Linked DNA regions of Homo sapiens: regions 1 and 3 are each linked to region 2. Evidence: fine-mapped QTL for protein levels in blood plasma. A gene starts in region 2. Each other region holds a variant in brackets. All regions are shown on one strand. Distances are from middle to middle.

What was found. PIP is the chance, under the fine-mapping model, that this variant and not a neighbour inherited with it causes the effect. The UK Biobank Pharma Proteomics Project read protein levels with antibody pairs (Olink). The fine-mapping took linkage between variants from a reference panel, not from the people measured, so its PIPs are less certain.
Region 1: its variant is fine-mapped to the plasma level of the WFDC12 protein (UK Biobank, PIP above 0.99).
Region 3: its variant is fine-mapped to the plasma level of the WFDC12 protein (UK Biobank, PIP above 0.99).

The regions. Positions count from the first base shown.
Region 1 is chr20:45,135,580-45,138,340 of GRCh38, forward strand. LOC101929863 (a long non-coding RNA gene) reads right to left here. Exons shown (of 3, transcript XR_936751.3): 3 at 1,859-2,318. Among named protein-coding and RNA genes, the nearest start is that of WFDC12, 12 kb to the left of the region's middle. The variant G/C (reference allele first, on the strand shown) is at 1,438.
Region 2 is chr20:45,123,275-45,126,035 of GRCh38, forward strand. WFDC12 (WAP four-disulfide core domain 12) reads right to left here and starts at 1,191. Exons shown (of 3, transcript NM_080869.2): 1 at 1,095-1,191; 2 at 833-991; 3 at 151-669. The coding sequence starts at 1,173. The coding sequence ends at 572.
Region 3 is chr20:45,086,872-45,089,632 of GRCh38, forward strand. No RefSeq gene overlaps it. Among named protein-coding and RNA genes, the nearest start is that of KCNS1, 13 kb to the right of the region's middle. The variant G/A (reference allele first, on the strand shown) is at 1,572.

The DNA of each region.
Region 1 (2,761 bases), 12 kb after region 2:
TGGCCTGGTATTTGGGTCTACTGGGATGGGCCTGGATCCTGGGTCTGTTAGGGCAATCCTGGACCCTTTGTCTTCTGGACTCTGAGAACACAGAGTCTGGTCTAGAGTCTGGGTTTGGCCTCATGTTGTGGCAGTTGTAGTTCCTGGGTCTGCAGGGGCTTGTCTGGATCCTGGCATTGCAGATGCTGGCCAGTTTCCTGGAGACGTGTGTGCTGGCTTAGAGCCCGGGTCTGTGGGGACCTGCCTGGAGCCTGAGTTTACTGGGGCTGACCTTGGGGGCTGGGTGTGTGGGTGCTGGCCTGGAGGCTAGGTTCACAAGGGTTGTCCTGGGTCCTGGCCATAGGGGCTAGCCTGGAGCCTGAGTCTCTGGGGGCCAGTCTAGTGCTGCGGTCTACTGAGATAGGCTGGACCCTGGGTCTACTAGGGTTTGGGGCCATAGGGAACATCATGGTACTGGCTCAGAGACAGCTAGGGACAGTACTTTTGCCTCAGAGATCACTGAAATTATTCAAACTGGCCAATCTTGAGACACTTACCCTGCCTCACCTGCTCCTTCTTGCAGGAACCACAGAAAAGGTTTGCCCACATTTCTCCCTCACTCCCTCTATCTCTTGACTGAAAAAGGTGCTTTCTATGTGCCCCCCTGCCCTACCCTTCCCATGGCAAGGTGTGGCTCTCCTTTGAGATATGTGAGTATAACAAACTCTCTTTTAAAAGGCAGTAATCTCCTGATATGTTCGCTTTGTCATACCTAAATAATATTAAATACCTAAATAATATTAAAACCCAATTTTTTAAAAAGGAGCTTGGAAGGCAAAGGACTAGAAAATCAGTAGCAAGGATGTCTGTGGTAGGGAAAGAGGACCAAAATGTGAGGAGACATTTACTGTGAAGACTTGTGTATTACATATTAACACCTGCTGGGAAGCATCTATGATAGATTAGACCCTGACAGCCAAGATGAAAAACTCAACAAGTTGACATTAACCAGCTTTCTTTTTTCTTTTTTTCTTTCTTTCTTTCTTTTTTTTTTTTTTTTGCGACAGGGTCTAGCTCTGTCGCCCAGGTTGGAATGCAGAGGTGCGGTCTCCCCTTACTGCAACCTCTGACTTCCAGGCTCAAGCCATCCTCCCACGTCAGCCTCCCAAGTAGCTGGGATAACTAGCCTTCATCACCATACCTGGAGAAGTAACTGCAACACAAGGTAGAGGACAGTGGTGAGCATGGAAATGCACTGCTTAGATCTCCTGCTGCTTCAGGGTGTGCAACTGATGGATGCCCCCAGCTACTGTCCTCTGCATCTGCCACTATGTCTGTGCAGAAGTCATGGATGCTTCCATCAGGTTACTCCCAGCCAATGACTGAGTGAGGCCCGAACACTAAGGCAGGCTCATTCTGAGACCTGGGCCTCTTCTGATAGGTGACTTCAGTTCAAGC[G/C]TTGTCTTTCAGCCTGACTGGCACTTTACCAATGTTGTAATTCATTCTGAGACTCTTCCTCCTTCCTTCTCTCCTCCCTCAGAGCAGGCAGCCCTGCATCATGGTCTCATGCTCTCCTTGCCACTTTGGCTACCTCCCTTTGTCCCTCACAGGCATTTTCCCTGACACACACTCTTGATTACCTAATCCTGTCTAGGTATCTGCTTTTCAGAGTGAGTCCTAAACAAACCTACTCACCTATAGTTTTGGTTTGAATAGTTCAGGAAATGTTGAAAAAAGGGAGAAGAAGAGGAAGAAGATGGGAGAAAAGAACATGCTTTTTTTTTCCTTAATAGTTATTACTATCAAGTCAAGATGATTAAATTCCGTTAGAAACATTAAAAAGATTAAGGTTGCTTTTTAAATGAAAGGACAATATTCATCATATTCTTAAAAGTTTATTCTTTGTAACTATTATGCAATTATGATAAAAATGTTAGATGTCAACTTAAAGCATGCTAGGGAATAATTGGCTTTTCAAAATTTGTTTATAATAGTTACAAATAAAATTTTGGAAGACTTGTCCAGACTTCTACTACCTTTGTGGTCCTTAACTAAATGTGAAATATTAATCATATCCTTTTTTCAGATCCTAAGGGAAAAGCCATAAAGGATGGAGAGAGAGACAGGGAGAGAGAGAGGAGATCCAGCAGTCTTACAGATTTTTCTGTGGTTTTAAATATACAATGCTTTATCTCTTTGTCTTCTTGTCATATTAACAAGCATTTAACTCTGAAATGACATCTTGGGCCTGGGAAGATCATGGACAAATTGGAGACCAGTTATCCAAATCAGAGCCTGTAGCACCAGCGTCTCCTCAGGCTTGGCTAAGGAGTTTCCACCTCGAGAGAGAAGAGAGAATCAGGGATGTAGGAAGGTGAAAAGGTTCAGGGAAGGTTCAGCCTGGCTGGTACTTTGTCAATGCCAGGTGACATGGCATTGCAGGAGACATGAATTTGTGTCCTGGGGCACTGTGGCAGAAATCCTGCTAAGTACTCTCCTTCACAGAAAACTGAGATATGCTGCCCCAGAATCAGGGACTGGGGATCAGGGACTCTAGGCAAGCCATCCTAAGGAATAATGAATTTATAATCCCTGACCTTACAATTTAAATATGAAGAGAAAGGTGCTGTGAAAGGTATCGTGAAAAACTAAAATAATAACAATAAAAATTCAATAACCCTTGAGCAACTTAGAGATTATCTTGTCCAAATGTCCCCTTCATACAGAAGAGAAGGGTGATGCCCCTTATGTGAAATGGACAGTGCATATCCTGAGCAAGGAG
Region 2 (2,761 bases):
TCCTTTCAGAAAATTTCTGTACATCTCTAGATTTATTTGTAGGTATTTTATATTTTATTCACTTTGATAATGTTGAATAGGATTTTTTTTTTTTACTATTAGGTTGTCTTAGCAGGTTTGGGCTGCTATAACAAATTACCATAGACTGGGTGGATTATAAACAGCAAATATTTATTTCTTACAGTTCTAGAGGCTGGGAAGTCCAAGATCAAGGCACCAGCAGATTCAGCATCTGGTGAGGACCAGTTTCTCTTCTCTGACAGTGCCTTCTAGCTGTGATCACACATTGCAGAAGGGCAAGGCAGCTCTTTGGGGTCTCTTATAAGGGCACTGGTTTCATTCATGAGGGGTCCATTCATGAGCATTAGGGAGGAGCACCAGGTAGAGAGGGAAAGTACCGTCCCTGGGGTCTGGACTTTTTGTGACTCTTCCCTCTTTTTGGGGAAAAGGACTTCAAGCTCAGGTTTTCTTTGGTGGGGTTGGGTATTGCTTCTTCCATATTCCAAGTCTCAGGACCCTCAGGGGCAGGTGCCAAGTGAGAGTGACCCCCAGAGGTAGAAAGGACCCAGCATCATTTCTGAGGACACCTGGTAGAGGAGGAGCCTGGACACTTGGCCTCCCATCCTGGCTCAGGGTATGGCCTTGACACATCTTCATCCTTGTTTCCTCCTTTGGACAATGGAGATGTTCAGACTAGGTGGTCTCTGAGGGCCCTGCCAGCTTTAGCCATCCCTCCCCACACCAGCTAAAGGGACTAATTCCTCCGAACTTTCATGGGTCAGATAGAGGCAGGGAAGGGACAGCCCCAGCCCTGGGAGGCAGGTCTCCTTACCTTCTTCCAGTTCCTTCACAGGAATCACACACTTGAAGCCACAGTGCAGGTAACAACACTTCCTTTCCCCCAGACAGTCCTGGTCTGTGTGACACTGGGGAGGATCGGACTTGAAGCAGCGTACGTTGTCAGCTGGGCAAACCCCTGCTTTCTCTATACCTAGTGGAGGAAGCCACAAGGTGATATGAGAACTCCAGCCCCAGAGGGCCCCTCAGGACCTCTCCCCAGCCCAGCCCCACCCAGCTCCACCATGTCTGCTCACCCTCTTTAACTCCTTCCACAGCCACCAGGGTCACAAGAACGAGAGACACCATGAGGACCAAGAAGCTGCTGGACCCCATGTTGCCAGGCAGGTGCTTGGCTGGGAGCTGGGCTGAGCCTGGCTTTATAGTGTTCCTGCTGGGCATGCCAGTGGGTGGAGCTGAAGGCTCAAAATGGCAAGGGAGGCTGCACTTCCCAGCTCTATTTGGAAATGGCCCCTTCTGAGGAGGGACTTGGGGCTTTCCCTAAGGCTCTGCACTGGAATAGATGAAGAAATCCAAGAGCGACCCTCGTTCTTCACACGAGGAGAAGAAATGGACACGTGATTGACCATTAGGCGCCACCAGGGCCAAACTATCTTATGGAAGGAGGAAAAGAAGCACAGAAAGGGCATGAAATTACTCAAGTTCACACACGAGGCAGTGGCAGGGCCAGACTTCCTCAACTCCACCGTGTTCTCTATCAGTCCCTCTTCATGCCTGATTCACCTGGGACCAAAATCTTCCCTCCTTCCTGTGCTGCCCCGGACTTGTTCTCAGTTCTCACCTCACCCCAAGGAAGAATCTGAATGGCAGTGCTTAAAATGTCTGTCCTGAACATTCACTCTCAGCCTTGCGCTCCAGCACCGTGTGCTCCTGCCCCCCGCCAATCTCATGTGGCCTGGAGGAAAGCAGATTTTGGACCTGTCACCAGCTGTGTGACTTTGAAAGCAGCTTCACCTTTCTAAGCCTCCGTTTCCTCATTCATACAATGAGCATAATAATTATACTGTATCATCTTCATAGGATTTGTTTTCCCTCCTCTGCCCCTGCATCCCCCAAATTCCTGGATTTGGAAGAAGACATGGACGTGTGTGCGTGTGTGTGTGTGTGTGTGTGTGTGTGTGTGTGTGACCAGGCTTTTGGGGTCCTTTCTTTGAATGAGTACTAAAGGGAGGAAAATCCTTCCTGTTGGAAAAGTTGCAGATATAAGCCCAGAAACTCCAGAAATTTGGTCCTGGCCCTGGTGAGAGAGAAATTCTGAGAAGATAAATCTAAGATGCTGATAAAAAGAGATGAGAGATGGACAGGGAGTAATTTAGAGGATATCTAGTCCTTCACTAAACTTTTTCCTGAGATCAGCCCCACTCATACCCAGGGTTATGTTACCACCCAATACATTCACCTTTCTGCCTAAGCTGGTCTGAATTGGATTTCTGTCATTTACTAACAGGACCCCTGAGTAATGCAAAGATTTGGGTTTGGGGTGTTCCACATCCTGAAGTGTGGAAGGGACTGAGTTGGGGTTAAGTGGAGGCAGGGAGGATACCTCCATTCCTGGAAGTGAGCCTACTCCTTATTAGGTGGTGAATCTTTGGTTACAATCTCACCAGTCATATCACTGGACTCAGATCATTTGGATACCAGGGATGGAATCTGGGAAGTTCATAAACAAATACTAGAATGTTGGAATGTATTGGCTATTTCCTCCTCCACCTTTTTATTATGAACTTTTTAAACATACAGAAAAATTGAAATAACAGAACAATGATACTTGTATACCTACAACTGGATTTAACAATTATTAATAGTTTGGGATATTTTAGAATACCTATAGCTACATTTGTTGAAATATTTGAAATGAAATTGAATACATTATGTTCCTATTTCCTAAATACATCAGCATGCA
Region 3 (2,761 bases), 36 kb before region 2:
ATTTATACAATGGAGGCAGTTGTCACTAAGCTATTTTAATTGTAGTGCCCCAAAGAGGTGATTTATGAGTTTTACCTACCTCAATCCCTATGTTGCTCGAATTGCTGTCTTTCTCAAAGCCTTGTTGTTTAATTTGACTTTGATCCTATCCAGTACCTTTCCAATGCAGTCCTTTTTTGGCTTAAGTTTTCCAGAGTTGGATTCTGTTGTTTGCAACCAAAAATTCCTAACTGATACAGAAATTGGAACTAGAGTTGAGTTGTAGACACCATATCCTCTAGGAAATGTGGGATATTTCCTAAGACTGTGATGGGGCAAAATACAATGAGGTTGTTGCTCATGCTCTAGTCTGGGAAGCCAGCAATGGTCTGCAATGGTAAAGACCTATGTCTTACATTACTTCATAGCATCTGACCACTGAGGAGGCTCTCAGAGAAGGGATAACACGTGTCACAGTTAATTTTAAGGAAGTGAGGAGTGTTCAGGCTGTGTGATAGAGTATTTTGTTTCTAACCACATAGATTAATATAAAGGGAGAGTCAACAAAGGAAGCCCCAATGCCTTTTTTTTTAACATAAAAAAAATTCATAAACAGAATGAACGGACAGCATTTCTATGACTACGGTAAAAGACTCTCTTATGACTTGCAGTAGGGCCTAGTTCTCCAAATACCAAAGTTGGCAATTGATGATGCAGGCTGCTGAATTCACAGCCCTGCTGCACTTTGTGAAGTTAGGCATTAATAGGCAGTGGGATTATGACAAGTGGAATGATCATATGAGAGGATGTGGGAGAAAACTGAAAGCTCTCTAAAACACTGGGTGCAAACAATTCACACCTTTTCTTAGAGGAGAAAGCTCACAATTTTCTGCTTGCCCCATCCCTCAAGGCTACTTAGCTGGAAGGTGGGGATCAGTTTGGCCTAGAGCATGACAAGTAGACACAGTAGGTAAAAATCCTGGACCCATACAGAATTGAAGAAACTTGTTAACTGACACCATCAAAAATTTGGGGAAGTATCTGTGGAAATGGATTTTTGTGGTGCTTTATCAAGGAAGGGGGAATGTAATCTTGGCTCAGGCTGATCTTCTTGATATGGTTTCACTTGCCAGGGATTATTTGGCATTCTCTGTGCTAGCTCCAGGAGCTGGCAAGGCTCTAACAATGTGATGAGTTGGCTAATGCAAACTTAAAACAAATGCTGGCCCACGTGAAATGGAACTTAAGGGCCCCAAATCCCTTGGCATCATGTAGAAGAAGAGATTCAAAGATTTCTGAAAGACAGGAGGCTGGATTGGATCTATTTTGTGCCTCCTTCCCACAAATACCTCTAACTGTAGCCCTCACACTTTACCCTTGCTTTGAGGAAAGTCAAGAATGCTGGGTGGAGGGGCTGCAATTTGAAATAGGTTGCCTGATTCAGAGGGGAAGAAGAATGCAGAGATGTGGGAGGCCAGGCGTTGGCACTTCATCCTCAGAAATGAAGTGGGAGTGATCACTGGAATATTCAGTAGGCTCTGTATGAGGCAAGAACTCATGGTGTAGTGTTACAGGCCGAAATGATGAGGGTC[G/A]TGATCAACTCCATATACTACTGGAGGCTATATGAGTAAGCAGCAAACTGTTTCTCATAAATGCAGAATGTTGGCAAACCGACGAACTGCATCTGCCACCCGGCAGGAATGCTGAGGGCAGTCACGTCCCAAGCATAGTGTTTCTTGTGATTAGGTACATCTGAAGCCTGTTAGTAACAATATGAACCTGTGATCAGTTAAGCAGCTGACCAATCATTACCTCCTCCTCCCTGCTCTTGTTACCCAATAAATAGGAAGGACTGTGGAAGCTTGGGGGCTGCCTTTGCTCACTAGAAGCGGGGAGCTCTCTTCTTCTTCCCCGGCCCCTTCCTTTAAAATAGTTTCTTTTGTCTTAAGTTTTCATTTCTATGTTCGTCCCTTCATTCAGTCTTGTAATGACGGTCTCAGGCAGTAACAGTAGTAAGCTGTCGTAATGATGGTCTCAAGTAGTAACCGTGGCACACTGCCACAGTGTAGGGCCCTAAAAAGTTAAAGGCAACCCACTAAAGTCTTACTTGATTTGTTTAACCAGCAAAACATAAGAAACAAAGCAAAATGGAAACCAAAAACACCCTCTAGTTCTGGCAAAAAAAAAAAAAGTCACGACTTGAGCCACTGTGTAACACTGGGCTTGCGTTTATTGATCTAAAGCCCTTTGATTGAAGGATATGCTACTCACCTTTGAGGAAGGACTCTGCTATATTGCATGAGTGTAATGTGAATATTTCTCTTGCCTTCTCCAAAAGGATCTGTGGCCATTTCCCAAGGTAAATGGATACTGGGGAAAGGGAAATACACCATTCAGGGAACCTTGATGAAGACTTCGAGCTAATACCAGTTTCTTGGGTTCAAGAGTACCACTGTAGGTCCATCTATCATGTGAAAAAGTGTTTTGGCTTTTGTCCATGCCACTGGAGGCCTAATGGAATTCCAAAACTATTCTATATCAGCAGTTTCGGAGAGATAGTTGGAAAAGATCCCCATATTGGCTCTCTGACCCATGAAGTGAGGGCCATTGTGATATAAAAGGCCAATAGAATACAACTGAACAACTGTTTCAAAATAGAAAAGTCAACGATAGTAACATATCTTTAGGGGAGGCTGCAGAGATTAGTGTTTCTACCAAAGACCTTGCAGGCTGATGACTCCAATCAAAACACCATTAATTTCCTCTGGTAGGTGCAAAATTA